4 linked regions of the Homo sapiens genome follow. The protein of the gene in region 4 interacts with the protein of the main gene of each other region in a pairwise test. Each region holds a gene or a part of one and is shown on either strand. Other genes may lie near its edges. The genes, in order: BTBD2, CFAP161, SP2 and CINP.

What was found.
Region 1: the proteins of CINP (region 4) and BTBD2 interact in binary tests that used the Homo sapiens proteins (3 or more experiments, as listed by UniProt).
Region 2: the proteins of CINP (region 4) and CFAP161 interact in binary tests that used the Homo sapiens proteins (3 or more experiments, as listed by UniProt).
Region 3: the proteins of CINP (region 4) and SP2 interact in binary tests that used the Homo sapiens proteins (3 or more experiments, as listed by UniProt).

Annotation. Positions count from the first base shown.
Region 1 is NC_000019.10:1,984,928-1,991,720, forward strand, and holds the end of BTBD2 (BTB/POZ domain-containing protein 2), read right to left. Parts: intron 5,896-6,793; coding exon 5,790-5,895; intron 5,444-5,789; exon of another isoform or gene 5,275-5,443; coding exon 5,077-5,274; exon of another isoform or gene 4,031-5,076; intron 3,568-4,030; exon of another isoform or gene 2,766-3,567; coding exon 2,573-2,765; intron 2,327-2,572; coding exon 2,239-2,326; intron 2,050-2,238; coding exon 1,903-2,049; intron 1,723-1,902; coding exon 1,561-1,722; 3' UTR 521-1,560; downstream 1-520.
Region 2 is NC_000015.10:81,137,264-81,144,289, reverse strand, and holds part of CFAP161 (cilia- and flagella-associated protein 161), read right to left. Parts: intron 6,240-7,026; coding exon 6,155-6,239; intron 629-6,154; coding exon 470-628; intron 1-469. UniProt on the Homo sapiens protein: Microtubule inner protein (MIP) part of the dynein-decorated doublet microtubules (DMTs) in cilia axoneme, which is required for motile cilia beating.
Region 3 is NC_000017.11:47,913,219-47,920,244, forward strand, and holds part of SP2 (transcription factor Sp2), read left to right. Parts: intron 1-1,507; exon of another isoform or gene 1,508-1,643; intron 1,644-2,093; coding exon 2,094-2,170; intron 2,171-2,937; coding exon 2,938-3,912; intron 3,913-5,233; exon of another isoform or gene 5,234-5,353; intron 5,354-7,026. UniProt on the Homo sapiens protein: Binds to GC box promoters elements and selectively activates mRNA synthesis from genes that contain functional recognition sites.
Region 4 is NC_000014.9:102,359,885-102,367,187, forward strand, and holds the start of CINP (cyclin-dependent kinase 2-interacting protein), read right to left. Parts: upstream 3,007-7,303; 5' UTR 2,968-3,006; coding exon 2,961-2,967; intron 1-2,960. UniProt on the Homo sapiens protein: Component of the DNA replication complex, which interacts with two kinases, CDK2 and CDC7, thereby providing a functional and physical link between CDK2 and CDC7 during firing of the origins of replication.

The sequences.
Region 1 (6,793 bases), on a different chromosome or scaffold from region 4:
TGAACTCCTGACCTCAGGTGATCCACCCGCCCGGCCTCCCAAGGTGCTGTAATGACGTGTGAGCCACCACGCGGCCTTGCTGCCGGGTTTCTTGATGTCTTGCCCTGCACGTGTGCTCCTGAGGCAGCAGCCAACGGCTTGACTTCTCTGGCCACTGAGGCCACAACTGGGCACTCCCTGCTTTCTCTCCATCTCTCACATCCACGGTCCCCCAGCAGCCAGCAGGGCCTCCCCACGGGGAAATCGGCACACACGTCCATTGCATTTGGGTTTGGGGGGAGGTGTTGAGTTAGTTAGGGTCTTGCTCTTGCCCAGGGGGGAGGGCAGTGGTGCATCACTGCTCACTGCAGTCTCGACCTCCCGGGCTTCAGTGTGGCCTGTGGGTACTTAAGGAGGGTCTCGCAGCACTGGCGACCAGACCCGGGGTTCAGGGCCCCTCTCGGCGCACGACATCCCTCGCCCACTGCAGCCCGGATGACAGGGCAGAGAGTGAAGGGGAGCAAAGCAGTGTGCGCTCAAGGCAGGTGCATTTGTTTCTTTATTTAAAAAAATCATCTGGGGGCATGGTCTGAGGAGGACACCCCTCCCATGGCTTTGGGGAGGACGCAGGTTCCAGGAGTCACAGGGCAGAAACACGCGGGGTGGGTGGGGGCGTGGCCGGAGTGGGGAGGGGCTGTGCCCCCAGCACCTGGGGGTGGCTCCCACGGCACCAGGTGGGCTAGGGCAACAGTATGTACAGGCGAGCAGTGCTCCTGGACCCGGTCGGGGCCGGCTGGGGCCCCATTCTGCGGCAGGGGAGCTCTGGGGCACAGGGTCTGAGTCCCATCTTGGGCTGCAGGGACCGCGAGGGCCGTCCAGGGAGGCTGGACAGCGGGGGCCTTTATCTGGGCCCATCAGGTGGATGAGAACGGACACTGCAAACCGCTCACCACCTGGGCCAGGGCTAGGCCTATCCGGCAGGGGCCGTCCCCACACTGAATCCTGCGTGCGCAGAACTCAAGCCGGCATCCAGGCAGTGGGAACGCCCCGCAGGCTGGGCTTGGGTGGCCTCGGGCACGTGACAGGTGGGGCCCGTGTCCTGATAAACGGACAGGAACAAAAGGAACGCAAGGTCTGGGACCCACGGCTCTGGGAGCAGCGCCACCCAGGCTGGCTCCTAGCAGAGAAATGGGAATCGCAAATGCATTGCAATGTGCAGTGAAGAGACGCGAGGGACGCCCGCGGCGCACCGCCGGCAGACGACGTGGGCAGGCGCCCTGAGCTGCGGGTCCGTGGGCCCTGGCCCAGGCCGGCACAGCCCTGTCCCTAGTCCTGAGGGATTGTCTCCACAGGGCCTGGCCACTGGCCTGGCCACCTCCCCGGCTGCCCTGATCCAGCAGCCACACTCGTGGTGAACACAGGGCAACCCCGTCCTGATGCTGAGAAAGGTGGCATGGAGTGGACAGACGGCCTGGGGGACACTGGGCCTGGCACCGCGTGGTGGGGGGGCCCCAGCAGCAGATGATGGCCTGGGGCTGCGGCTATCCCCACGGAGGGAGGGCGGTGTCGGTGTCGGGCAGCCTAGGTGTAGAAGATGACCTCGGGGATCTGGCCGTCCTCCACGGATGTGCCATTGTTGTTCCCGGCCGCGTAGCAAAAGGTGAAGCAGGTCTTGGCGCCCGTGGTGGGCGACTCGTGTGTCACCTTGCGCAGGCCTTTGGTGCCGTAGTGGGAGTCTGGGCCCTGTAGGGAATAGGGGTACAGTGAGGTCAAGGACCACCAGGCTGGGATGCCCCAGGTGTGGACAGGGCAAGGCCCCGACTGGGCCAGGGTGGCTGCCTCTGGAGAGTGTGTGCTGTGCCCCGGTGGCTTCAGGATGGGCCAGAGACTCCCACGGAGGGACCCCTGTCCCCGGCGGCGCACCTTGAGCGTGGCACAGGCCGTGTAGTTGACGTTGGGCAGCACCTCCACCGGCTCCTTGAACATGACGCGGAAGGTGCTGGCTGAGCCGTCGCAGCTGAAGCCCGTGTCGTTCTGGCCCAAGACGGTGTTGCTATCGGTGTGAATAATCTGCGGGGAGGTGGGAAGTGGGAGGCTCAGGCCTGGGGAGGGCCAACGGGGACCCCTCGAGGCCCAGCCCACCTGCCCAGGGTGGGGGCAGCACAGGGACCAGGGCCGGGGGTTCAGCCAGGGTTCCATGGAGGTGGAGAGAGGACATGGGCCTGAGTGGGGCCTGGGGATGAGGCTTGGGGCTGGTACCTGGATGTTCACTTGGTAGTCGGTGGGCCCGTGGATGGATCCATACAGCCCAAATCCCACCACGAAGATGCGCTTGTTGACTGAGAACCTGCCGTGGCAGATGACAGGCAGCAGCGTGGATACCCAGGGATAGCCTAAGGTGAGCTGGGGCGAGCCCACCCCCATGCCCGGTCCCCTCCATCGTCCCTGAGTCCTCCACCCCCATGCCCGGCGGCCCCCCCGCCGTCTTCATCATCCCTGAGTTCTCCACCCCCATGCCCGGCCCCCCATCTCCGTCATCCCCGAGTCCTCCACCCCCATGTCCGGACCCCCCCGCCTGCACCCCAAGCCCCACCTGATGCGGTCACTGGTCCCGCTGTAGCCCCAGCGACTCTCCACCTGCTGGAAGCGGTTGATGCTGCACTCCTTCCCACGCAGGCAGCAGCGGGGCCGGTCAATGAACTCCACTCGTGGCTTGGGGTTGACGGTGAAGTGCAGGAAGAGGCTGACCACCTCGCGGTCCACCAGGATGCCCGACTGTGCGGGACCTGCAGCACAGGGAGGGTGTGGGGGAGGGCCGGGCTGCACCCCAGGATCCCGAGTGCCTGGGAGGACACGCTCCTTCCCCCTAAGATGTCTGCGTCGGACTTTCAAGGTGCAGGGACCTGGGCAGCCCCTCCCCGGGGGACTAGCCACCAGCCATGGCCCCTGCTGCCTGGGCTTTTAGGGAGAGGTCCCAGGGCACAGACCAGAGGCCGACAGATACGCTCACTCAGGGGCGATGCCTCAGGGTCTGACAGATGCACTCACTCAGGGGTGATGTCTCAGGGTCTGGCCCCACTGTAGGGACCACCCGTCACTTCACTGTGGGTGGGGGCGGGGGGCTCCACTGCCTGTTCTCTCAGGGCCATTGGCTGGGAGGGGTCACTGTGGCTCCCTGCTAGGCCTGTACCCCCCAGGCTGCAGCCCTGGCTTCTAGAAGCAGTCTGGGGGTTCCTCTCCACGGTGGGCCCTAGGCAGACACCTTCTCAAGCGCTTACACCCCCAGGGGTGATGGCTAGCGGACCCCAGGCAGACTCCAAGAGCCAGGCTCTTAATCCCGGTGCAGAGATGTCACAGGCAGAGGGACTGTGCATGGGATGTGAAGGGGCTCTGGGTAGGGAGGGGAGGCCAGGAGGGGCAGAATTGGGGGTCCACCATCCACCCCCAGGAGTGCCAGGACACAGCACCCTCTGCTCTAATGAGAGCAGCCCTGCCTGCCTGAGACCTAATCACTCATCAACCAAGGTGGGCTCAACTCCGCATCGCTCAGCTGCAAGCCAGCCCAGTGCAGACACAGTTTAATAACTGGTGAGAAACAGACCATTATGGGTTAAGTGAATCAGGAAGACTGAGTATCAAAACTCAATAAACAATGTTAACAATTTTTTTTTTTTTTGAGACGGAGTTTCGCTCTTGTCCCCCAGGCTAGAGTGCAGGACGGAGTTTCGCTCTTGTCCCCCAGGCTAGAGTGCAGTGGCGTAATCTCGGCTCACCGCAACATCCGTCTCCAGGGTTCAAGCAATTCTCCTGCCTCAGCCTCCAGCATAGCTGGGTTTACAGGCATGCGCCACCATGCCCAGCTAATCTTGTATTTTTAGTAGAGACGGGGTTTCACCCTGTTGGTCAGGCTGGTCTCAAACTCCTGACCTCAAGTGATTCCCCCCATCTTGGGCCTCCCAAAGTGCTGGGATTACAGGAGTGAGTGACCCAGCCTGGCCAACAATTGTATATATTTTTTTATTTTAAATGGAGTTTCACTCTTGTTGCCCAGGCTGGAGTGCAGTGGCGCGATCTCGGCTCATCACAACCTCCACCTCCTGGGTTCAAGTGATTCTCCTGCCTCAGCCTCCCGGGTAGCTGGGATTACAGGCATGAGCCACCACACCCAGCTGATCAACAGTTGTATTTTTAAGAAGTATGTATCTAGCCAGGCTCGGTGGCCCATGTCCATAATCCCAGCACTTTGTGAGGCCGAGATGGGAGGATGGCTGGAGCCCAGTTCATGACCAGCCCAGGTGACATAGCAAGACCCTGTCCCCACAAAAAAATACAAATATAAGCCTTGTGTGGTGGTGGCACCTGTGATCCCAGCTACTCCGGAGTCTGAAGCAGGAGGATCACTTGAGCCCAGGAGGTCGAGGCTGCAGTGAGCTGTGATTGTACCACCGCACTCAGCCTGGGCGACAGAGACCCTCTTGCTAAATCTGGCGACCTTCAGCTAAGCAAGAGCGGGGGCCGCGTGGACCTGGGGAAGGCCAGACGGCGAGTGTGCACCAGCCCCAGGGCTCTGTCCCAGCCCCTTCTGGAAAGTTCCAGGCCTGTTTTGCTCCAGAGCTGGATGGCGTCAGGCAGTGAGCAGCCACGAGGGCAGGAGGCATCGTTAGCGCTGCCCCTTCACGTCACCCTGGAACCCAGGCCCTGCAGCAGGGGACCCCAAGGCCCACTCGGGCGCATGACAGCCACCCCGGCCATGTCAGAGCCCTCCTGAGCTCGTCACAGACACTGGTACCTGCACCAGCAGGTAGCACAAGGGCGCGAGACGGGGACTCCCTTCCCTCCTGGGAAGATGCCACCAAAACAGCTGGACAGACACGAGAGGCGGGGTCTGGCAGTGTGCACGGTGGGGACAGAGCCGGGCCGGGGCTAACAGATGGCCCTGTGGACGCGTCCTCACAAGCCAGGTTTCTTCCTATCTGTATATGCCAGGCATCTGCCAGGCTTTCCGCAGTGAACTCGGGGGCACTATCCTCGGTACCCAGATGCCCACCTGTGTGCCACTCCCCTCCCAAACCAGCCCCTGAGCCCGAGCTCTGTTACCTGCAGCGAACTCCTCGATGGTCATGAGCGGGAAGCGAATGAGGCCCAGGGCCTTGCCCAGAACCTTCCGCCTGTTCTCTGGCGTCACCTGCAGCTGCTGCCGCTGACACTCGGCCTCGGACCAGCGGACAACGGCATTGAACAGCCGCACCTCACGGATGCCCAGTGTGTCGCGCTCCAGGACAGCCACCAGCGTGTCTGTGGGGTGGAGGAAGGGGCTGCGTGAACACGACACCCACATGCCCACCCTGCAGGAGGCAGTGAGACTAACGTGAGGACCAGCAGTTAAAGCCGGGCTGGCAACTATGGCCCGTGGCCCAAATCTGGCCCTGTGAGTGTGTTTATAAATAAAGCTTTATCAACACAAGACCACGCCCCTTCATTTTCCTCGGCTGTGGTTGTTTTTAAGCCACAAGGACAGACTTGAGTAGCTTTGACAAAAGCTGTTCAACAGCAAAGTCAAAGCCATGGACCATCGGAGGACGAGATGGTCACCATCAGCTGGGATGGTGGGCTCTGGCCTGTGGCCTCCTGGCCAAGGCCCCGGACTCCCGTGGGGCTGTGCTAGGACCCAAACTCCTGACCTGCTGCAAGTGGTGAGGCCCCAGCTCACCTGTGCAACTCCCCCAGGCCCAAAGCTCCCACTGTCAATCCCCGGACCCTCCCGCCGAGGCCCCGCTGGGATTCCCACACCTGGGCTCCTGGGCCCTTACCCAGGTCAATGTCGGTGAAGCCCTCCGCGGTGATGGCGTCTGCAGTGTTTTTGTCGATGTTCTCCAGGCACAGGCTGGCCAGCTGCGGTTCATCGAAGAGTCGCGCCTGGCAAGAGACATCGACGGGGGGCGCGGTGGGGACATCAGCACCCAGCCCTCGGCAGATCCCCAGTGCGGGGCCGGTTCAAATGCAGCCCTGACCACACGGGCCTTCCTGAGCGTGGCCAGGAGCCACCAGGGTCTCAGCCACCAGGCCGGCCCTGTTGTGGGCCCAGAGACTCCCCTGTGACCGCTGACTGGGGCGGGAGAGTTGGGGAGTTCCCTCTCAGGACCTCAGAGGCCAAGGAAGGAAGAAAAAGATGCTCAGGTCCCTGTCGGCAGGGCCTGCTGCTTTAGGCAAAAGGGGCGTTGCAGCTGCACTCGGGGGGCAGCAGGGCCCAGGACCCCGAGTGGCAGGCAGAGGTGAGGTGGCCGGGGCCGACCGGTGAAGCTTCCCGACCACAACATGCCCTTGGCCACTTGTGGTGGGAGGGGCCGTGTCCCCGGCAGCTCCATCCCAAGACAAACAGCAGACATGACTTCTGACAGTCAGGTGACAGAGCTGGAGGACGCCTGTGCTCTTAGGGAAACAGAGGCTTAGTTAGTGGAAGGTGCTGGAAGGGCCTATGCCAGCAGGGACCCGGGCAGGCCTTTCTGCGGGCATCCTCCCGAGGACACCTCTCAAGTGGGTTCGTAGTGGTTTTAGGGGCAGGGAGGCTGAGGCAGCCACAAGATGAAGCCCGGGGAGTGAGCTCCAGCCTCCTCTCAGCTCAGGCAGAGGCCTCTCCAGCAAGGCGACCAGATGACCCGGACAAGAAACCCCTCCCTGTGGGAGTCCGGGATGCCCTGCATCTGACCTGCCAGGATGGAGGGGGAGAAGGTTCTGGGTCCTTTCCAGGATGCCGGACCCCCAAAGCCCATTGGAGGACCCAGTGCCGCTGTCCCCTCTGGCCACCCTCCACCCC
Region 2 (7,026 bases), on a different chromosome or scaffold from region 4:
TTAGCGGAGGCCTTAGCGAAAACAGTGCGAAGGAAGCAGTGTCACAACGCTCATGATCGCACATCAGTGGTTCTTATCCTGATGACAGGGGCAGGGCCTGAGCTTTTTAGAAAGTTCCTGAGGCGATTCTAACGTGCAGCCAGAGGTGAGAAACTCTAGTGCAGGATGCTGCCATGGGGTAGATTAGTACCTCCCAAACTTGTGTTACAAACGGAAAAGAGACAGAAAGTCATAAGGCATTTGAGCTATAAGTCTGTGTGTTATAAATGGAAAAAAAGAGACAGAAAAGAAAGAGAAAGTCATAAGGCATTTGAGCTATAAGTCTGTGTGTTATAAATGGAAAAAAAAAGACAGAAAAGAGAGAGAAAGTCATAAGGCATTTGAGCTATAAGTCTGTGTGTTATAGACAGGAATAAATTGCATCCATTTCATAGCCTAGACACCCATGTCTTCCCGATGCTGCACTCACCGGGACGGGGAAGCCTTCATATTCCAGGCGTAACTGGGGGTCAGGGAAGGCAGCCTGCCAGCAGTTCACATGGGAGACCTCATCTGTTAGGTACACTTCCTGGAGCCAAGACCTCTTAGACGATTTCAGGAGGGTCCTGTGGTCACTTGACAAATACAACTGAAAATGACAGCAAGCAGATGCACTAAGTCAGAGCTCTGTGAAAAGCTGGAGAATAAAGAAGCAATTGACTGGCTGGACGGCAAGCACATTCAAAGCAGTTCTCAAAAACTCTGTTCTTACTGATTGTATGAGAAAGCACAATTTTCCTCTACCTTAGATATGCCATCTGGCATGCTGAGACCAAGACACACACACACACCTACACACACTCACATCTCCAACTACTTTTCCTTCCTCTGAATACCAAACTCAATCTTCCTCTCTCCTTCCTACTCCCTGTCCCCTGTTCCCCTTCAGGATATAGGAACTGGACCAATGGGTTTGTTTTGTTTTGTTTTGTTTTGTTTTGAGACAGGGTCTCATTCTGTTGCCCAGGCTGGAGCGCAGTGGCAATCATGGTTCACTGCAGCCTCCAACTCCTGGGCTCAAGTGATCCTCCCACCTCAGCCTCCCGAGTAGCTGGGACTGCAGGTGCACACTGCCATGCCCAGCTGATTTTTTTTTATTTGTTGTAGAGCTAGGATCCCACTGTTTCCCAAGCTGGTCTTGAACTCCTGGTCTCAAGCAATCCTCCCACCTCAGCCTCCCAAAGTGCTGGGTTTATAGGTGTGAACGACCATGCCCAGCCATGGACTAATATTTTATTTAATATAAATGATGTTGCATTAAACTCATCACGTGAAATGAATTATTCTTCAAATCAATATCCTCACAGCTGATATTCATTTGTGAGCCTTCAAGGTGACCCACACCCCTCTGGAATTGATGTCCATGCTGGAAATTTATGTCGGCTATCTGGCTGCCTGTAACCTTGCCAGGAAACAACCCCCATCCTGCTGAAAAGTCCAAAATGTTAGTCCTTTGCTAGTTCTTCACTGGTTCAGCCCCGCCCTGAATGTGGAGGTAGTTTCTGCATATTTTGACAGGTTTCCAATAAGCACCTTTCCCATGCAAGGCTGTGCTGTGAGGCACTATGGGGAAGGCAGAGATGAGTTACTATCCTCATGAGGTTCTCCACCTAGCAGAAGAGGTGATTGAGCACAAAAATGGGAAGCACCTGCATGCAGCTTTCTGGTTAGGGAGGTCCAGCAGATTTGCAATGAGCTGTGGGAGGCAGAGGTAGGAGCACGGTGCTTTCCTGGGGGATCAAAAGAGGCTCTGAGGAGGAGGCTGGATAGCCAGAGGGGGTGAACACAGAGAGGGTGAGGATGTATTACAGAAGGCCTCAAATGCCACAGCAAACAGGCAGAACTTCATTCAAAGGGCAATGGGGAGCCACTGCTGACTCCAGTGAGGATGGGGGTGACCAGACCTGTGCTTGTAAAAGATCAACCTGAAAAACAAATAATAATAATAATAAATTTTAAAAATTAAAATGAAAATTAAAAAAAAAAGATCAACCTGGCAGCACCCTGTCTAGTATGGTCTGAAGTCAGGATAGACTAAAAGGGCAAAGCAATGGGGCCTGGGTTGCTGAGGGGCTGCACTGGGGCAAGAGAAACAGGCCAAAGTGCAGTATGAAGGGAGAAAAGAGCCTAGGAACAGCGGAAGAGACCTGGTAATCAGCTGGACGTGGGTGGGGAAGGGAGATGGGCCCAAGATAGATTCGCCATTGGCCCTGGATGATGGTGCCTTTCAGAGCAACAAGAAAACCAGAATTTAAAAAGGCAAATAAGGCCAGGTACAGTGGCTCATGCCTGTAATCCCAGCACTTTGGGAGACTCAGGCAGGAGGATCACTTGAGGTCAGGAGTTCGAGAGAGTCTGGCCAACATGGTGAAACCCTGTCTCTACTAAAAATACAAAACTTAGCCAGGTGTGGTGGCAGGTGCCTGTAATCCCAGCTACGCAGGAAGCTGAGGCATGAGAATCGCTTGAACCCGGGAGGCAGAGGCTGCAGTGAGCCGAGATCACACCACTGCCCTCCAGCCTAGGCAACAGAGTGAGACACCAACTTAAAAAAAAAAAAAAGGCAAATACTATCTGTCTCAAACCACAAACTGCCTTGTTCACCTAAAGTAAAACCATAATAAAATCAGGAACTAACCCAGTAGGCCACTATTTCACCAACGCTTCTATGAATGCCCCAGAAGGGTTTGCTAATTCAAAGACAAGAAACCAAAATTCGAGGTATAAGAATTGAGGAAGAGAGAAAATTGTCATCATTTGAAGATTAAATGACTGTCTTCCCAGAAAACATAAAAAAATCAACTGAAAAAACTATAGAATTAATAAGAGTAAGTGATCTCATCAAAGGTGAATATAAAAATCAATAGCCTTCTTATATTTTTATAAGAGAAATTATCCTTTATTCTATCAAATGTTCTATCCTTATTCTATCAAAAGGACCTCTCTACAATAGCATCTGAAAATACAAGATACCAAGGAAAAACCCTTAACAAAATCATTGTCAAGTCCATGTAAAGAAAACCACAAAATCTTACTGGGTGATAGAAAATTTTGCTGACAGAATAAATGGAGAGACATCTCAGAAGAATAAATATGGCAAAGTTACTAAATATGTGAATTTACTTAATTTTACAATGCCAATCAAAATATAATACCAAGTAATCTTTTCCCCACAGGGGCAGAAGGACTTGAAAAAAATAACCATTATATTTAACTGAGAAATTAATTCCTAACATAATTCAGACAAAGAAGTGTAATGAGAGGCAACTAGCCCTATGAGCTGTCAAGGTCACAGGGCTATGAGCCCTATCATAAAGCTCTAATAATTAAGACACTATAGTCCTAGAATAAAAATAGAGAACTGGGCTGGGTGCAGTGGCTCACGCCTGTAATCCCAGCACTTTGGGAGGTGGAGGCAGGAGGATCACTTGAACTCAGGAGTTCAAGACCAGCCTGGCCAACATGGCGAAACTCCGTCTCTACAAAAATAAATAAATAAATAAATAATAAATAAATTTTAAAAACTTAGCCAGGTATAATGGTGTGCACCTGTGGTCCCAGCTACTCAGGAGGCTGAGGCAGGAAAATTGCTTGAGCCTGGGAGGTGGAAGCTGCAGTGAACCATGTTCGTGACACTGTACTCCAGCCTAAGTGACAGAGTGAGACCCTGTCTCAAAAAAAAAAGGAAAAAAAAAGAAATAGACAACTAGGGTTTAATGGATCAAAATAGAAAGCTCAGAAGCACAGGGTAGTATATACAGTAATTTAATATATGCTAAGGGAAATGTCATGCACCTGTAGAGAAAGGAATAATCATTCAAGGGATAATAGATATAACTGACCAGTCATCTGGGACAAAATGAGATGTTCACATAAAACCCTTTATCAAAATAAATCCCAAGTTGATTAAATAATAAATGTAAGCAAAAGTCAAATTGCAAACATCTAGAAGCTAATTCTAGTTTTTCTTTTTATCAGATCTCTGAAGCAGTCTTAAAAACATAAAAGCAATGGAAGGAATTACATTTTACTCAAAAATATAATATTAGAACAACTACAATTTAAAAGCCAAGCAGCAAATGGAAATATTAGCAACACATATGACAAAATTTAGTAATCAATGGTATATAAACCCAAATCAACACAAAGGCAAAAAACGGATGATTTGCAGGAGAGAGGAGAGGGAGGGAGAAAGAAAAAAGAAGCGAGAGAGAAAGGAAGAGATAAGGGAAAGAGAACAAACTTAAAATATAGGAGAAATTACAAGTAGTACAACATTTACATATCATTTTTTCTTTTCATTTTGTTTGCTTGTCAAATTAGCAAAGTTTTAAATTATGATATTTAATACAATTAATGAAGCAGTATATGATCATTCTTACTGTTGCTGAGAGTGCAAATTGGTACACCCCATTACAAAAAGAACTCTTTATATGTATCAATACTTTTAAATGTGTTCATATTCTTTGACTTAGTAATTCATTGCCCAAAAATCTATCCTAAAGGTAGAATTCCTAATTTGAAGTTTGAGAGGGGAAGATTTAAGCATTTATACACAAATGCACACTGGAACTTTACATATAAAAGAGAAATATTGGACCAAACCCAACTGCCCAAAAGTAGAAGAAAGACTAGGTAAATTATGATACCGCCACACAATTATATCTTATGCTCTCATTAAATGATTTCGTCATTTTAAAAAGCTTTAAAAATGCTATTTTAGAAAGAATAACCTATCTGTATATTTATCTAAGTTTTAAAAAAATACACAGGAAAGTAAAAATAAACCAAAATGTTAATGGTGCTAATCTCTGGTTAAGAAATGGTAATTTACTCCCTTTTTTCAGTAAGTCAATATTTATCAGGCTGCAACTTACCATCTGTGGGGTGTCAAAGTTTAATTGGTAGCATCGTTTCTTCTTCTTTTTATTTTTTATTTTTATTTTTATTTTTTGACACAGGGTCTCTTTCTGTCACCCAGGCTGGAGTACAGTGGTGCAAACTCTACAGTTTCTACCTTCCGGCTTAAGCAATCCTCCCACCTCAGCCTCATGAGTATGTGGGACTACAGGAGCGCGTCACCATACCTGGCCAATTTTTTTAAAATTTTTAGTTGAGATGAGGTCTCGCTATGTTGCCAAAGCTGGTCTACAACTCCTGGCCTCAAGTGATCCTCTTGCCTTGGTCTCCCAAAGTGCTGAGATTACAGGCATGAGCCGCTGCACCCAGCAGGCAGCATTGTGTTTTCTTAGTGGTATCAAAAATAATAATAATAATAACGCTACATCATATAGTAAATGGATTTTTAATTCAATAAAAAATGTGATATAGTACTAGCTCTGCTACTTGCTAACTGAGTGACTTGAGTCAGAAATCACTTAACCTCTTGGTGCCTCAGTTTTTCCATCAGTAAATTAAAGGTAAAATAGTCCCTACCTCAAAGGCAAGTTTGGGGGATTAGGAGAGTTGAAATATGTGAAGCATTTACAACACTGCCTGGCATGTAGTAAGGTAGATTAATACTCACCATCTTATGGATGAGAAACAGGCTCAAAAAGCATTAAATAACTTACCCAAATTCCCATCCCATAGGTACGCACCTGAAATTCAAACCCAAATCTATCTGGTTCTATTATACTTCCTAATCCCCAAGGCTCCCTGATTTATGCAAATTTAAGCATCTCATATTGTCCCTACTCCCATACTAAGCAAAAGTCTGATCATCAAAAGTTTAAATAAAAAAGTTGTCAGATAATATGCCTTGCTAGCATTGGCAACATTTGACAGGTATCAGATGGTTATTAATGAATTCAATCATTTAATTTACAGGTGGAAGTGGTATAAACTTTTGCTTTTTGCCAGCTGCATTGTGAAATGGTTTTCCTCCCTTACTGTTTAGGTTTTAAGGGTGTAGTTTTTGTAATTTGGGAAGTTAAAAGGAAAGACTGGCTTGGCCCAAAACTGCCTGTGAAAAGCTGCAAGCTGACACCATAGTGAAGTCAGAGGTGGAGCCCATGACTCTGGAGTTCTCTGTCCACTTCAGTAGATAGTTATGATCCCATTTTGGGCAACAGAAATGACTGATCCAAAGTAGATATGCAAAGTGATAACTCACCATTTTGTTGTCAAATCCTCCTGTTATCCCCAGGCAAAAGTCCTGCCCATATCTAAGGACTTGACCAGTGGCATCTCTGTGTACACTGTCAGTGGACAATAAGTATAATGTAAATGTAAACTCTCTGTATTAGAATCATTCTATGACTCTATTTTTTATGCATGCAATTTTGTTTATAATCAGTTTTTTGATAATTTATATTCACATACTGTAACTGAATTAGGTAATTAAATAAAAGGTGTTTTCTTTTGGTCTTAAAATCCAGCTAGCACCCTACTCCCTGCCCTGCACCATAGCTAGCACACAAAGCATCCCCACTTTGTGAGCCTCTGGTTAGAGTAAACTAAGCACATCTTGCTAATGTATACTAAGGAATTCTGGTCAAGTGCATTGACATGTTCAGAGAGAACCAAGGTAACACATTTGTAGACATTTAATACGGTTCCCTCTTAATCCTTCAGGATAACAGAGGTTGTGATCAATTTTTACTTGTCTTAACATATGTATTCAAAGGAAATCTAAATTAGAACTTGAAGAACTGTCTATATATTCTTTTTTTTCCCCCAGGCTGGAGTTCAGTGGTGCAATCTTGGCTCACTGCAACCTCCACCTCCCAGGTTCAAGTGATTCTCATGCTTCAGTGACACAAGTAGCTGGAATTACAGGAGCCTGCCACCACGCCCAGCTAATTTTTTGTATTTTTTGTAGAGATGGGGTTTCGACATGTTGGCCAGGCTGGTCTCGAACTCCAGACCTCAGGTGATCTGCCTGCCTTGACTTCCCAAAGTATTGGGATTACAGGCATGAGCCACTGTACCTTGCCTGGGTCCATATATTCTTGCAATGCTTACATTGCTGTCATACGAATTAGT
Region 3 (7,026 bases), on a different chromosome or scaffold from region 4:
GTTTGTTTTTTTTTTAAGAGATGGGGTCTTGCTATGTTGCCCAGGCAGGAGTGTTTTGGCTATTCACAGGTGTGATAATAGGGCACTGCAGCCTCAAATTCCTGGCCTCAAGTGATCCTTCCATCTCAGCCTTCCAAGCAGAATGCATCCTGAGCCTTTTTGTCTCTTTTAGTCTTTAAAGTAATACCCCTCTTATTTCTGTACTTACTGAAATCTGCTTTCCAGAGGTCCAGGATTGAAGTCTGACTCTGCCTGGTGTTCTTTTCCTTAGTGATTTATGCACTTTAAGATGGTATAGATTCTTTCTCCTAAAATTCTCATGACTTTCGTTTTCCTGATACTGTGTTTCTTTCTTTTTAAAAAATTTTTATTAGGGACGGGGTCTAACTGTGTTGCTTAGGCTGGTCTTGAACTCCTGGGTTCAAGCGATCTTCCCACCTCGGCTTCCCAAAGTGTTAGGATTACATGCATGAGCTACTGTACCTAGCCTCTTTTGGATGACTTAAGTGCACAGTAGAGAGTCCCTTCATTACTTCCTCAACCTTATTTTTCTTTATTTAAGAAAAAAAGTACAGTAGAATATATTTATCATGGGAAAATGAAAAAGTACAGAAAACCAAGGTGCAAAATAAGTTTAAGTCAAACAAAACTCAACCGCTAGGAGATAATGGCTTAAGACTTTTTCCTATTTGATTATATTCATATATAGAAATATATACACATTTAAACAAAAATAGAATTTACTCTGTTTTCATTCTCCTTGTTATATCCAGTTAGTCATTAGCTCTACTGAGTCTTGGTTGATGCCTGTGGGGCCGTGCCTATTGTACTATGTAAAAGCGTAAATTCAAGTAAAGAATTGACCCATGAGGCCAGGGATGGTGGCTCACGCCTGTAATCCCAACACTTTGGGAGACTGAGGCAGGTGGATCACCTGAGGTCAGGAGTTTGAGAACAGCCTGACCAACATGGTGAAACCCTGTCTCTACTAAAAATACAAAAATTAGCTGGGCATGGTGGTACATGCCTGTAATCCTAGCTACTCAGGAGGCTGAGACAGGAGAATCACTTGAACCTGGGAGGTGGAGGTTGCAATGAGCCAGGATCGTGCCATTGCACTCCAGCCTGGGCAACAAGAGTGAAACTCCTTCTCAAAAAAAAAAAAAAAGAATTGACCCATGTGCTGTATATGCTGCCTGGGGACAACGGCCTTTGTGGTGAAGGCTGAGCATAAAACACCCAAGACTTGGCAGTGGAGCAGGTGTGTCCTCCTTGTCAGAAATCTTGGCTGAGCGATACTTCCCTCCCAGTTTTGGCATCTGTCTACAGCAGGAGTGAACAGGAGGCTTGAGTTTGAGCTAGAGGATTAGCTGGGGAGCTCCCCCCTGCCCACCATAGAGGAGTTCCAGTTTAGCTATGGAGAGCCAGCAGTGCCCAGCAGAGAGGGCATAGCTGAGTTACAGAAGAGAGTCCTGGTATAATCTTGGTTATTTTTGTGTTATCTCAGACTCTGTGGTGGCTGGAGGGGGCAGTCCAACGACAGCAGGACCAGCTGTCCTCACAGCCTCAGATGGCTGAGTCTGAGGAGAGGAGAGGAGAAAGTAATCTACTGAAATAGATGTAAGGCTATCAACCCAGGGTGGGTAAGTCTGGGGAAAAGTCATTAACTTCCCTTGGAGAAGCAGCAACAAATAGAGGCAAAAAGAAAATCTGGCTGGGTGCAATGGCTTATGTCTGTAATCCCAGCACTTTGGGAAGCCAAGGCGGGTGGATCACCTGAAGACAGGAATTCGAGATCAGTCTGGACAACATTGTGAAACCTCTGTCTCTACTAAAAATACAAAAATTAGCTGGGCATGGTGGCAGCGCCTGTAATCCCAGCTACTCAGAAGGCTGAGGCAGGAGAATTGCTTGAACTTGGAAGGGGGAGGTTGCCGTGAGCCTAGATCATGCCACTACACTCCAGCCTGGGCAACAAGAGCAAAAATTCCGTCTCAAAAAAAAAAAAATAGAAAAAAAGAAAATCTGAGGCAAGTGGGCTTGCGTTCTTTTTGGGCATTTTATACATTACTCCATCTCTTTTCTTCCAACAGATCCACAGACCAGCATGGCTGCCACTGCTGCTGTGAGTCCCAGTGACTACCTGCAGCCTGCCGCCTCCACCACCCAGGCGAGTAGGCAGTGGGCTCCGAGGGCTTGGGGCTGCAGCATCCTGGACAGACTCACCGAAAACACTCTCTCTTCACTGTCTCACTATAAATACCCTAGGTTATGAGACTGGGGAAGGTTCAGTTAGCCACATTTTCTTTACTGAGAAACTATGGCCATTTACCTAAGGTGCCGCAGTTGGGCCAGGGGGAAAAACAAGGATTAAACTCTGTGTTCCTTCCACCAGACCTCACTAAAAAAGGAAAAGGAAAACAGAGGCTTTCTCATTGTCTCGAAAGTGTAGCCCTCCCCAGTCTATAAAGTTACATGTTCCGAGTACTAAAAAGCACTTTACTGAAGTATTTATTCCTCCTGTTGCCCCTCCATTTTTTCCTCCCTCCTTTCCTCAGTTGAGCAATCAGGGACCCCTCAGTCCCTGGGGTGGGCTAACAAACTCCATCTGAGAGCCAAACATGCTTCACTGTCCTTAGAAACAAGGCCAGCGGAGAGTAGGAAGTCAGCTCGTGCTGTTAGTTTACCCTGTCTGTGGGGTGCTGCCAGGGGTTCCTTCCTGAGAAAGACATTGCCCACCTTTTCTCCCTCACTTAATGGAGAAACCAGTAGAGAAGGGGAGACAGCAGCCAAGCAGGGGAGGGTACTGGCAACATGCCTGCCCCGGAGGTGGGGAAGACTGGCGTGGAATGCCGCCAGGAGGAGAGGATCATGGACAGAGGCGGCCGGGCAGCGGGCCTTCCTGTCTCACTCCTTTTCTCTGCTGTTTTTTTGCAGGACTCCCAGCCATCTCCCTTAGCCCTGCTTGCTGCAACATGTAGCAAAATTGGCCCTCCAGCAGTTGAAGCTGCTGTGACACCTCCTGCTCCCCCACAGCCCACACCGCGGAAACTTGTCCCTATCAAACCTGCCCCTCTCCCTCTCAGCCCCGGCAAGAATAGCTTTGGAATCTTGTCCTCCAAAGGAAATATACTTCAGATTCAGGGGTCACAACTGAGCGCCTCCTATCCTGGAGGGCAGCTGGTGTTCGCTATCCAGAATCCCACCATGATCAACAAAGGGACCCGATCAAATGCCAATATCCAGTACCAGGCGGTCCCTCAGATTCAGGCAAGCAATTCCCAAACCATCCAAGTACAGCCCAATCTCACCAACCAGATCCAGATCATCCCTGGCACCAACCAAGCCATCATCACCCCCTCACCGTCCAGTCACAAGCCTGTCCCCATCAAGCCAGCCCCCATCCAGAAGTCGAGTACGACCACCACCCCCGTGCAGAGCGGGGCCAATGTGGTGAAGCTGACAGGTGGGGGCGGCAATGTGACGCTCACTCTGCCCGTCAACAACCTTGTGAACGCCAGTGACACCGGGGCCCCTACTCAGCTCCTCACTGAAAGCCCCCCAACCCCGCTGTCTAAGACTAACAAGAAAGCAAGGAAGAAGAGCCTTCCTGCCTCCCAGCCCCCTGTGGCTGTGGCTGAGCAGGTGGAGACGGTGCTGATCGAGACCACCGCGGACAACATCATCCAGGCAGGAAATAACCTGCTCATTGTTCAGAGCCCTGGTGGGGGCCAGCCAGCTGTGGTCCAGCAGGTCCAGGTGGTGCCCCCCAAGGCCGAGCAGCAGCAGGTGGTACAGATCCCCCAGCAGGCTCTGCGGGTGGTGCAGGCGGCATCTGCCACCCTCCCCACTGTACCCCAGAAGCCCTCCCAGAACTTTCAGATCCAGGCAGCTGAGCCGACACCTACTCAGGTACCACACTCCCTGTACTGTCCTCCTTCTCCTCCTCTGGTTATCTCTTTTTGGCTTGCTTTGAAGATGATGCTGGTCATCTCCCAGCTTGATCTGACCTTGAGAGTCAGTATCTTTTGGGGTGGGCAGTAAGTGGCCGTTTCTACCTGACAAATGGGCTCTCTTTAGTTCATAGGGCCAAGTACTTCTTATCTTTAGAAATTGATGAAACATAGGGATATTTTGGCACCTTTTCCTTATAGGTTGTTTTTTTTCAGGGGATGGTGAGGGGATAGATACATACTTGTTAATAACTTATTTTTGATTATAGAATTACTCAAAACATTAGCAAGAATGAAAACATTCCAGTTCATAGAATTTTATGTAAAGTAAGAAAATTAATGAGAAAAATGCTGATCATTATTAATGACAAGAAAAAAACAGGAAGAGCAGCCTAGCTTTATAGCAGGAATATTTAGGCTAGATTCATCTGGAATGTTTGTTTGTTTTAGGGTGTTTTTTTTTTTTTTGAGATAGGGTCATACTCTGTTGTCCGGGCTGGAGTGCAGTGATGCGGTCACTACAGTCTTAATCTCCTGGGCTCAAGCAATCCTCCCACCTCAGCCTGAGTAGCCAGGACTACAGGTGTATGTCACCATGCCAGGCTGAGCCACTGCTTCCTGCCAAACTGGGATGCTGAATTCAACAAGAATGTTCTTATTTTTGGCATTTATTAATGTGCTCTAATACTCTGGAATCTCTTTGGCTCTGTGAGGCAAGTTTTATTCTTTGTTCATGCCTGCTAAGTGCCAGTAATTGTGCCCATGTTGCAGATGGATAACCCAGAACTCAGATAATTTATGAAGTATCCAAGATCAAATAGGGCATAAATGACAGGAACCAGGAGTCAATTGAGATTTGTAACTTCAGACCCCACACTCTTCCATCTTCCACCTTGACTCTTGTGTCTTATGTGTAGCAGGTGCTACCATTAAAATTGAGGAGTTTTTTTTTTTTTAATATAAAAAACAGTTCCTGCCATCGAGGAATGTATGACCTAGTTGTCTATAGAGGAAGAACCGAATGACTGAGAGTGGGAAGTTGTGTAATTTCCTGGGTGGAGAAGAGAGCCTTTGAATTTGAACTGTGGACATAGAAATCACACAGGAATTCACCCTTCTGGCATATTTAATGTTGCCAGGTATTTTTTATAAGTCATTTATCACAATATCTGTGAATTCCCATGATCAGACCTACCCTACAGGTGATATTTTATGTTGCCAGGTGATTTTTTATAAGTCATCTATCACAAATATCTGTGAATTCCCATGATCAGACCTACCTTACAGGTGAAGAATTGTGGCACCTGCTCAGGAGCACATCCTCGGCATTGCCTCCCCTCCCTTCCATGAGGTCCCATTTCTTGAGGTTGATGGAGACAGGACTAAAACCCAGGTCTTCCCTAAGGAAATAATGATACATATGCAGAAAGATTTAGCTACAGTATTATTTTTTCATGACTACACAGCTTTATAACATCCCAACATGCTGATTATTATACAACTGATACCTTGTTAACTGTATATATCTAGGCTGTTTCCAATCTTACAGCTAAATAAATCCCTGAAAGTGGGTCAAGGACACGTACATTTTTAAAAAATTTGTATTCTATATTAGAGGTTTGCAGTCTGTGACCAACTTTGAAGCCAAATCTAGCCCACCTGCCTGTTTTTGTAAATAAAGTTTAATTGGAGTGCAGACACGTCCATTTGTGTTGCCCTTGCACTACAGTAGTAGCACAGTTAAGTAGCAGAGACAATATGCCCCGCAAAGCTAAAATATTTACTCTCCGGCCCTTTATAAAAAAAGCTTGCTGAACCTTCAGATGCAAATACACACACACACATGCATGCACGCATACACACACACACACAAAATCAGACATAAAATATCAGTGATTTGAAAAAGGGGCACATATCAGAAAACTGGGAATGAGATTTGCATATTTACTAAGAAATGGGCCAGGTGAGGTAGTTTATGCCTGTAATCCCAGCACTTTGGGAGGCTGAGGCTAGAGATTGCTTGAGCCCAGGAATTCAAGACCAGCCTGGGCAAGATAGCAAGACCCCATCTCTACAAAAAAATTAAAAATTAGTGAGGCATGGTGCTACACACCTGTAGTCCCAGCTATTCAGGAGGCTGAGGTGGGAGGATCACTTGAACCCATGAGTTCGAGATTGCAGTGAACTATGATCATTCTACTGCATTTTAGCCTGGGTGACAGAGACCCTGTCTCTATTTAAAAAAAAAAAATTTTTTTTAAAGAGATGAGATGTTTGTTAGCTTTTAAGTGAGAAGAAGCACAGTCATAAATAATCCAGGAATTAAAAATTACCCAAATCAAAATCACAACAGGATTTTTTTTTTACAAAGAACTTTTTTCCTTTTGACTCATTTGAGTGTAAATTGCCACCATGATCCCCCTTGTCATTTCTGAACGCTTTAATTCCTACACACAAGAACATTCTACATTACCACAATACAATCGTCAAACCCAGGAAATTAGCAGTGAAACACACTGCTAATTCCAAGACCCCACTGTGTTTTCACCACTTGCCCCACTAATTCCTTTGTGGCAAAAGGATCTGATCCAATATTACACATTACGTTTAGTTGTCTCCTTAGTCTCTTTTGATCTGAAACACTTTGTCATTCCTTTTTTTTTTTTTTTTTTTTTTCTGTTTTTTTGAGACAGGGTCTCGTTCTGTCACCAGGCTGGAGTGCAGTGGCAATCTTGGCTCACTGCAACCTCCAACTCCTGGGTTCAAGCGATTCTCCTGTTTCAGCCTCCCAAGTTGCTGGGATTACAGGCGCGTGCCACCACGCCCGGCTAATTTTTTTTGTATTTTTAGTAGAGACAGGGTTTCACCGTGTTGGCCAGGATGACTTCCTCATTCTTTACTTGACCATCATGACCTTGACACTTTTGAAGGCTAAAGGTCAACTTTGGCCATTGGCAGCTCTTTCAGGTCGGCTCTTTTTTTCTCTTTGGCCATTGGCAGCTCTTTTCAGGTCGGCTCTCTGCAACCTCCGCCTCCCGGGTTCAAGCGATTCTCCTGCCTCAGCCTCCCGAAT
Region 4 (7,303 bases):
TTGTGACTGTCTGCTAAAACTCTTCAATGGCTCACGTTCCCTTCCCTACAGGATAATCTAGCCCTGACTCCCGAGTACTTCCACTATCTAGTCTCAGGCACTCTGATACTTTAAATTTGCTCAGAGTAGCGTGGCCCATGAGTGCTAATCATTTCAAGACACTGAGACAACAGAGATGCAGAGTTGATCACGATGCTGCCACTGCCCTTCTTGGTAATCAGGAGGAAGTCCAAAATCCTTCCAGACCTAGCTACCCCTCCACATCATCACGTACATCAACCCACACCTTGGCCCCCCGTCAATATCCAGCGAAAATGAACTACTGGCAGCTCTTGAAAAGCTGAGGTGCCTGCAGGCCTTTACACGTGTTCTCTCTGCAGGAAAGCTCCTTCCTTCCTCAGGCTCACGATGCCCATCCTCCAAGATGCACCCGGATCCCACTGCCTGTAGGAAGCAACCCCCAGACCACCAAGAGCCAACTCAGGTTGTTTGTTCTCCCCGAACCCTCCTGTGCCCTCTTGCCTTCTCTACTTTGAACCCCACAAAGGCTTCTCACTGCCCACAGGATAAAGTCCTCTTGAGGAATCCAGGACACACAACAGCTGGATGGTTTGATGCCTCAAGTCAGAAGACCACACTGCCTGCGTCTGAACCCCAGCTCGCCAGCTGTGAGATCTTGGGCAACTTAATGTACCTTTCAGAGCCTCAACATTTTCATCTGTAAAATGGGAATAAAAATAGTATCTATTTCATAGGATTGCTGAGATTAGATAATATATGTGAAGCTGTGAGGCCTCGCACAAGGCAAAAACCCAGTATCTCACCTGTTAGCTCAAGGGCCTCTACTATCCAAGCTCTGCCCACCACTTCAGCTTCTACCCTTTCCCACTTGCCCTCTGTGCATCAGAGCTGGCTCTGTACAAGTTCTGACTTTGACCTGGAATATTTTTCCTATCTGTGTGTGTCCCCACTCCCCTGCCTCATACTTAGTATCCTCACTTTAAAATATCATCTTGATTTATCATTCATTCTTTACTTAAACAACAAATATTTGCTTACTGCCTACAATACGCCAGGCATGGGGGAATGAAGTGATTGAATGAGACGGACCAGGACCGTTTTCATGGAACTTACTTTCCAAAGGGGAGGCAGATAATAAACAAATGACCACGATCAGTTCAGATCATGATTAAGTGTGTGTGGAAAATAAAACAGGGTCTTGTGTTAGTGTGATCCCCTGAGAAGGTGTCGTTTAGGCTGAGATTTGAATGATGAAAAGCCAGAAATAGGGTAGGTCAGTAGTATGTGCCCTAATTATGATAATGAGGTTGGTGAGTTCAAAAAACAGAAAACAAAACAAAACAAACAAGCAAACAAAAAAACCAGTGTGCTGGAATGAAATAGACAGAAAAGGACTAGTGCGTGAGTAGGTGATCAGACAACTAGAACCTAATAGGCCAAGATAAGAAGTTGGACCGAGGGCAGTGGCTCACGCCTGTAATCCCAGCACTTCAGGAGGCCAAGGCGGGCGGATCACGAGGTCAGGAGATCGAGACCATCCTGGCTAACACAGTGAAACCTCATCTCTACTAAAAAAATACAAAAAATCAGCCGGGCGTGGTGGCGGGCGCCTGTAGTCCCAGCTACTCAGGAGGCTGAGGCAGGAGAATGGCGTGAACCCGGGAGGCGGAACTTGCAGTGAGCCCAGATCGCGCCACTGCACTCCAGCCTGGGTGACAGAGCGAGACTCCGTCTCAAAAACAAAACAAAACAAAACAAAACAAAACAAAATAAAAAAATGAAGTTTGGACTTCTAAGTATTAGCTTGGTGCAAAAGTAACAGATTTTGCCATTACTTTTAACAGCCAAAATTGCCATTACTTTTGCACCAACCTAATACAATGGGGAGTGAGCAATGAGCTCTGGATAGGGCAGTGAAATTATCTGATTTAGGTTTTTAGAAAGTCATTTCCACAGAGAAGTATTCCTGGATCCCCCAGGTTGGGTTACGACTCACCACTAGATATGTGGTACACCCTATAATTCTGCTATCATGATATTCACCAGTGGAGTGTATTTGCTTGTTTAATGTCTATATTCCCTGCTAAACTGGAAATTCGACTAGGGTAGGAACTATGTCTCGTTCTCTTTCAAACCTTCCACACATAGGAGGCTTTGCATAAAATGAGGTAAATGGAGGAATAGCTCTTACCACCTGTTCTATAATTGTCTAAGGGTTTTCCCCCCAACAGGAGATTCTGAGGGCAGGATCACATCTGATTCATGGTCAGCCTGACTCATACGGGGCACATATTTAGGAACCAAAAACATAACTGACTTCAAGAAACTCAAGGGCTGGTAAAGACAGACCAGTCATCAGCGTCACAGGACAGGGTAGGGTGAGGGCACAGTGGCTAAGTTACTTATCCCCTCTGAGCCTCGATTCCCCATCTGCAAAATGGGGTTGACATTACTTCATGGGACCACTGTGAGGTTCAAATGAGATGATCCACTTAAAGTGCTTGGAGCAGTACTCAGCAAACTGAGCACTAGGCGAAAGCCAGCTTTCATTACAAGCAGAATGTTCTGACTGAGGGCAGTTCAGAGAGGAGTTTCTGGACGAGATGAGCATGCAAGGCTTGGTACCCAGTGAACTCTGTTAGTACTAATTTATAGTGACAATAATTACAATTTGGATGTCGGATCTGCTGACACTCATTTGCGTATATCGTCCCGTTCATCTGTCACTGCACATGTGAAAAAACGGAGGCTCGGCAAAACTGTCTCCCGAGCAGCTCGCAGAGGCTGCGAGGGGCCTGCGGGCTAGGCTGGGGTAAGACAGAGGACCTCCATTTAACCTCATGTAATCCGGGGAGCTCCTGAGCTTCTGGTCCAACCTGCGGCCTAAGCAGTAACATTCACAGCCACCCCACCCCGGGAAAGGAACCGATCTCACGCACCTTCCATAAGGTCCACAGATATCCGTAGAAGGAGACGCGAAGCCCCGCCCACCCCACCGGAAACGCATTTGCGTCACGTCCGCCCCGCCCGCTGCCACTTGTGGCTCTGCCGCTCTAGCCCCCGGCGGAGCCAGCTGCTGCTCTTCGGTGCTGGCCCCGGTGCCGGCCCCGTTGCCCAGGGAACAGGCTCCCGGCAGCCCCCGCGGCCCGGAGTCCATCCCGCCTCCTCCGGCCCGGCGGGGCCGACGAGTCCGGAGGGGCTGCCGCGGGAGGTGAGTCCGGCGACGCCGCAAGCGGCCCCGACGCCCCCGACGCCCCCGACGCCTGGCCCCGAGCCCCTCCTCGGCCTCCCCCGGGCCACTCTTCCCTTGCCTCAGCCCCGCAGGGTCTCCATGCCCGTCCGCCCCGTCTCCCTCGCCCGCGGTCTCGCCCGCGCGGAGTGGCGGACACTAAATGCCACAACACACGGAGCGCCTGGCTCGCCGCCCGCAGAATCCGGCGGTCCGCAGCGGGGAACAGGGGCCGCCCGCCCCTCCTCAGGCCTCCGCTGCGCGTCCCGCGCCCTCGGCCCCCGGCCCCACCCTGCATCCCGGCTGCCGGTCTGGCCGCGGGCTCTGCTCCTTCGCCTTAAGATTGACGTCGTGTTCTGTCCCCCACTCGCAGCCCGCGTCCCTTACATCCGCCCACCGGCGCCTGGCCCCAGGCCTTGACACTCATCCAGTTGGTGTTCAGTGTTCGATGAGTGGATAAGTGAATGACTCCTTTCCCAATCCTATTTGAAGGCATGGGAGGCAGAATAGGTAGTAAGTGTTAAAGGATGGGGTGTCCTGGAGTCAGAGCCGGGCAGGTCCCAGCGGCCCCTTCCTAGCTCTGTGCTGGGGCAAGTGCCCTACCTCACTCCGCTCCAGTTTCATCACCAGTGGAATGGAGATGAGAATAGTTTCTACCTCTGGCTTGGTAAGAGGATTAAATGGGTCAGTGCATGTAAAGTTAAGCACGGTGCCTGCCGCTGTACATTTCAGTAAAGGGGAGCCCCTGCTGTCATCTGTGCTAGCCTGCGTTCTCGCCCTCTAGTCCCTTCTGATATGTCTCTGACTTCTCATGACTTTAGTTTCTCCTTCTCTACCTCCATTTCTCTTCCCTGCACTTTTTTCTTCCTCTCTTATTGGGATTCAGGAATTTTATTCTGTTCTGTGACTTATGTTCCATGTGTTGGCAGAATGTGGGATACCAGCCTGGGTGCATCCTTTTCTCATCTATTGGAGTGACCAGTTGCACTTGTGGACTGCCTCCTTGCAGCCAAGGTCTTGTAGACAGAGTTCTGGGAAATCTCAAAACGCAAATCCCAGGCATAGGTAGAATCTGGGAATGAAGCCACTGTAGCTCCTTGTGATCACCAGCGATTCCTGGTCTTTTAGGCTGCAGGACTTTGTGTTTTCTCACACCCAGCTATAATGTACCTTGATAAACCTCTGACCTTATTTTTGTTGTTGTTGTTGTTAACCTGACTTACGTCCCATATTGGTGGTTATTTGGCCATCGTGTGCCAGCACTGTGCCAGGCTGGCTCTAGGGATGCTGTGGTGAACCAGACAGACCCTTCCTGAGGTCACTGCCTCAGAAAGATCATGGTCTGGCCCATGAACTTTAAAAGGGAGAACTAAGTGCAGGTGTAGGGGACACACAAATTGAATTTTCAGGACTGCCTTGGAAAACCAGTGGTGGGGAAGATGGAATGAGGATAACCCTCTTCTGAAGGAGTGACTAGGAAGTAGCTTTTGTTAGGCATCAGCTATATTATACCCACGTGTCTTTTTCAATAGAAGACTGGCATCTACTGGATTTTTTTTTCCAATTTTTTCTTAAAGAAGTTACACTTAAGTTTGGGGAGAATTTCATTTCATATTAGCCGCTGTAGGAGTTGAAAAAAATGGCTACTGGAACTTAGTGGGAAGAAAAGGAAGGAAACAGGCATCAGGCAGAGGCAGTTGATTGAACTTGGGAAGATGAGGAATAGATCAGGAAAGGGTTATAATGAAAAGCTTTGGTGTCAAGCACGAAGAGATTTCTAGATTCAGTAATGCACAGAGAGATCAGTAAAATTAGAAGGGAGTAGTTGATGGCTTTGCGAATTGCTAAGGTAGAAGGGAGCTGTTACTCAAGATGCATGTTCAATTTAAAATGAATGTATTCTTTGGACCTGGACATAAGAGTTCTATTGACTTTTTGCCACTATTTTATATTTAGGGCTGTCATACTTGGGTGAATCTAGCACAGTGCTTTGAGAGAGAGATTCATTCAACAAACGTGTATTGAGCATTGATTGTACCATACTCTTTATTGGTCTTTTAAAGCACCACAAAGTATACAGACTAGAAGAACATAGGTGAAGATGAGAAAGAGTCCATTGAAGGGGAGAGAAAACAGATAATGATGGTGCTGTGCGATAACTGCCATCATGGAGTTCTGTGAAAGCAGAGAAAGACCAACCAAGTATCTGAGGGAATTTATGAAGGCTTCCTGGTGGCGGAGGACTAGTTCTTACAGGGCACATGTGGGGGAATAGGGAAGAGTGGAAAGGGACTTTGTTCTGCAGAGACATACAGGTTATGGTGTGTGCAGGGACTGTGATGGAAAGCTGATGGATGCACAAACAAAACGTGGCCTGTCTACACAATGGAAGGCTGTTCAGCAATAAAAAGGAACGAAGTACTGATTTGTGCTACAACATGGAGGAACCTTGAGAACATTAGGCTAAGTGAAAGCAACCAGACACAAAATACCACATATTATATGATTCAATTTTGATGAAATCTCCAGAATAGGCGAACTGTAGACAGAGAGGAGATCAGTGGTTGCCCAGGGCTGAGAGAAGAAGCGTGTAGAGGGGTGATTGCTAAAGGGTAGGGAGTGCACAGTGTGTGGATGGAAGAGTGGCCTGAGATGAAGTTAGATATAGACTGTTTTGTCATAGTGTCTAATTTCCATGCTTGTGTTAGGCTTTAGCTTGTGACCATTGGGTAGCCAATGGGGATGGGAGCAAGGAAGTGACAAAATTTTGTCTGGAAGATAAATGACTGCCTCAGTCTCATTACGTTCCTCCTTAATAATTTAATACTCAAATAATTAATAGATGTCGTAGCCAGATTTCAAACATAGATTCTACAATAGGGATACAAATTGTTGCTTCCTAGGGATTTTGGAGAGAATCCTGAAACCATTAGTGTACCCAGAGCACTCTGATAACATGGTTATTGTACAGCGAAGTGGATGACTTAGACTCTATATTAGTCCTAGCTCCAGTTTGAGAAATCATCCATCTGGGTGGCAGTTGGGTGTTAGTAGTCAGCAGTGAAGGCTAGCTGCCACCTTCCAGGGTTATGAGATTGACAGGGCTAGTGGGGAAAGGAAGCATCGTAACTTGAAGGATGCCATAGGGTGGTGTTTTGTATTTTTTTAACTGAAATAGTCATGACTAAGGAAGCATTATTCATTATATTTTTATTTATTTATTTATTTTTGAGATGAAATATCACTCTGTCACCCAGGCTGGAGTGCAGTGGCACGATCTTGGTTCACTGCAGCCTCCACCTCCCAGGTTCAAGTGATTCTCCTGCCTCAGCCTCCCAAGTAGCTGGGATTACAGGTGTGCGCCACCACACCTGGCTAATTTTTGTATTTTTTAGTAGAGATGGGTTTCGCCATGTTGGCCAGACTGGTCTCGAACTCCTGGCCTCAAGCAATCCTCCCACCTCGGCCTCCCAAAGTGCTGGGATTACAGGCGTGAGCCATCATGCCCAGCCCAATTTTAAAAATTGGATTGAGACTATTGTTTTGCAGTAAGACCTGAAGTTAACAAATCTTTACTGAGCATCTACTCTGTGCCAAAGCTATTATTAGATACTAGGATTTACCTTGGTAAGCAAGAGAGAATTCATGTTGCTTACATTCTTGTAGGAGAGATGATTTTTAAATGGTTTAGCAAATAAAGCAATTAGAGGTTGTAATGAGGATTATGAAGCACATATGATAGAGGAAAGAAGGGACAGTTGGGTACTCTTGAGTGATCTGGTCAGAGAAGGCCTTTCTGTGGTGGTGATATTTAAGCTGAGACCCCACAGTTGAGAAGAAGCCAGATAAATGGAGTGAGATCATTTATTCTGCATAGAGGAAATAATTATGACACCTGAGTGGGACAGAGTGGGTCAGTGGAGCTAGAACTTGGAGGACAAGTGGAGACGGGTAGAGAGGTGACAGGGGAGCTGCAAAGGGCTTAGACCACACGGGGCATTTGGTTTTTATTCTTAGAGCACTGGGCAACCAGTGAGGAGTTTTGAGTAGAAT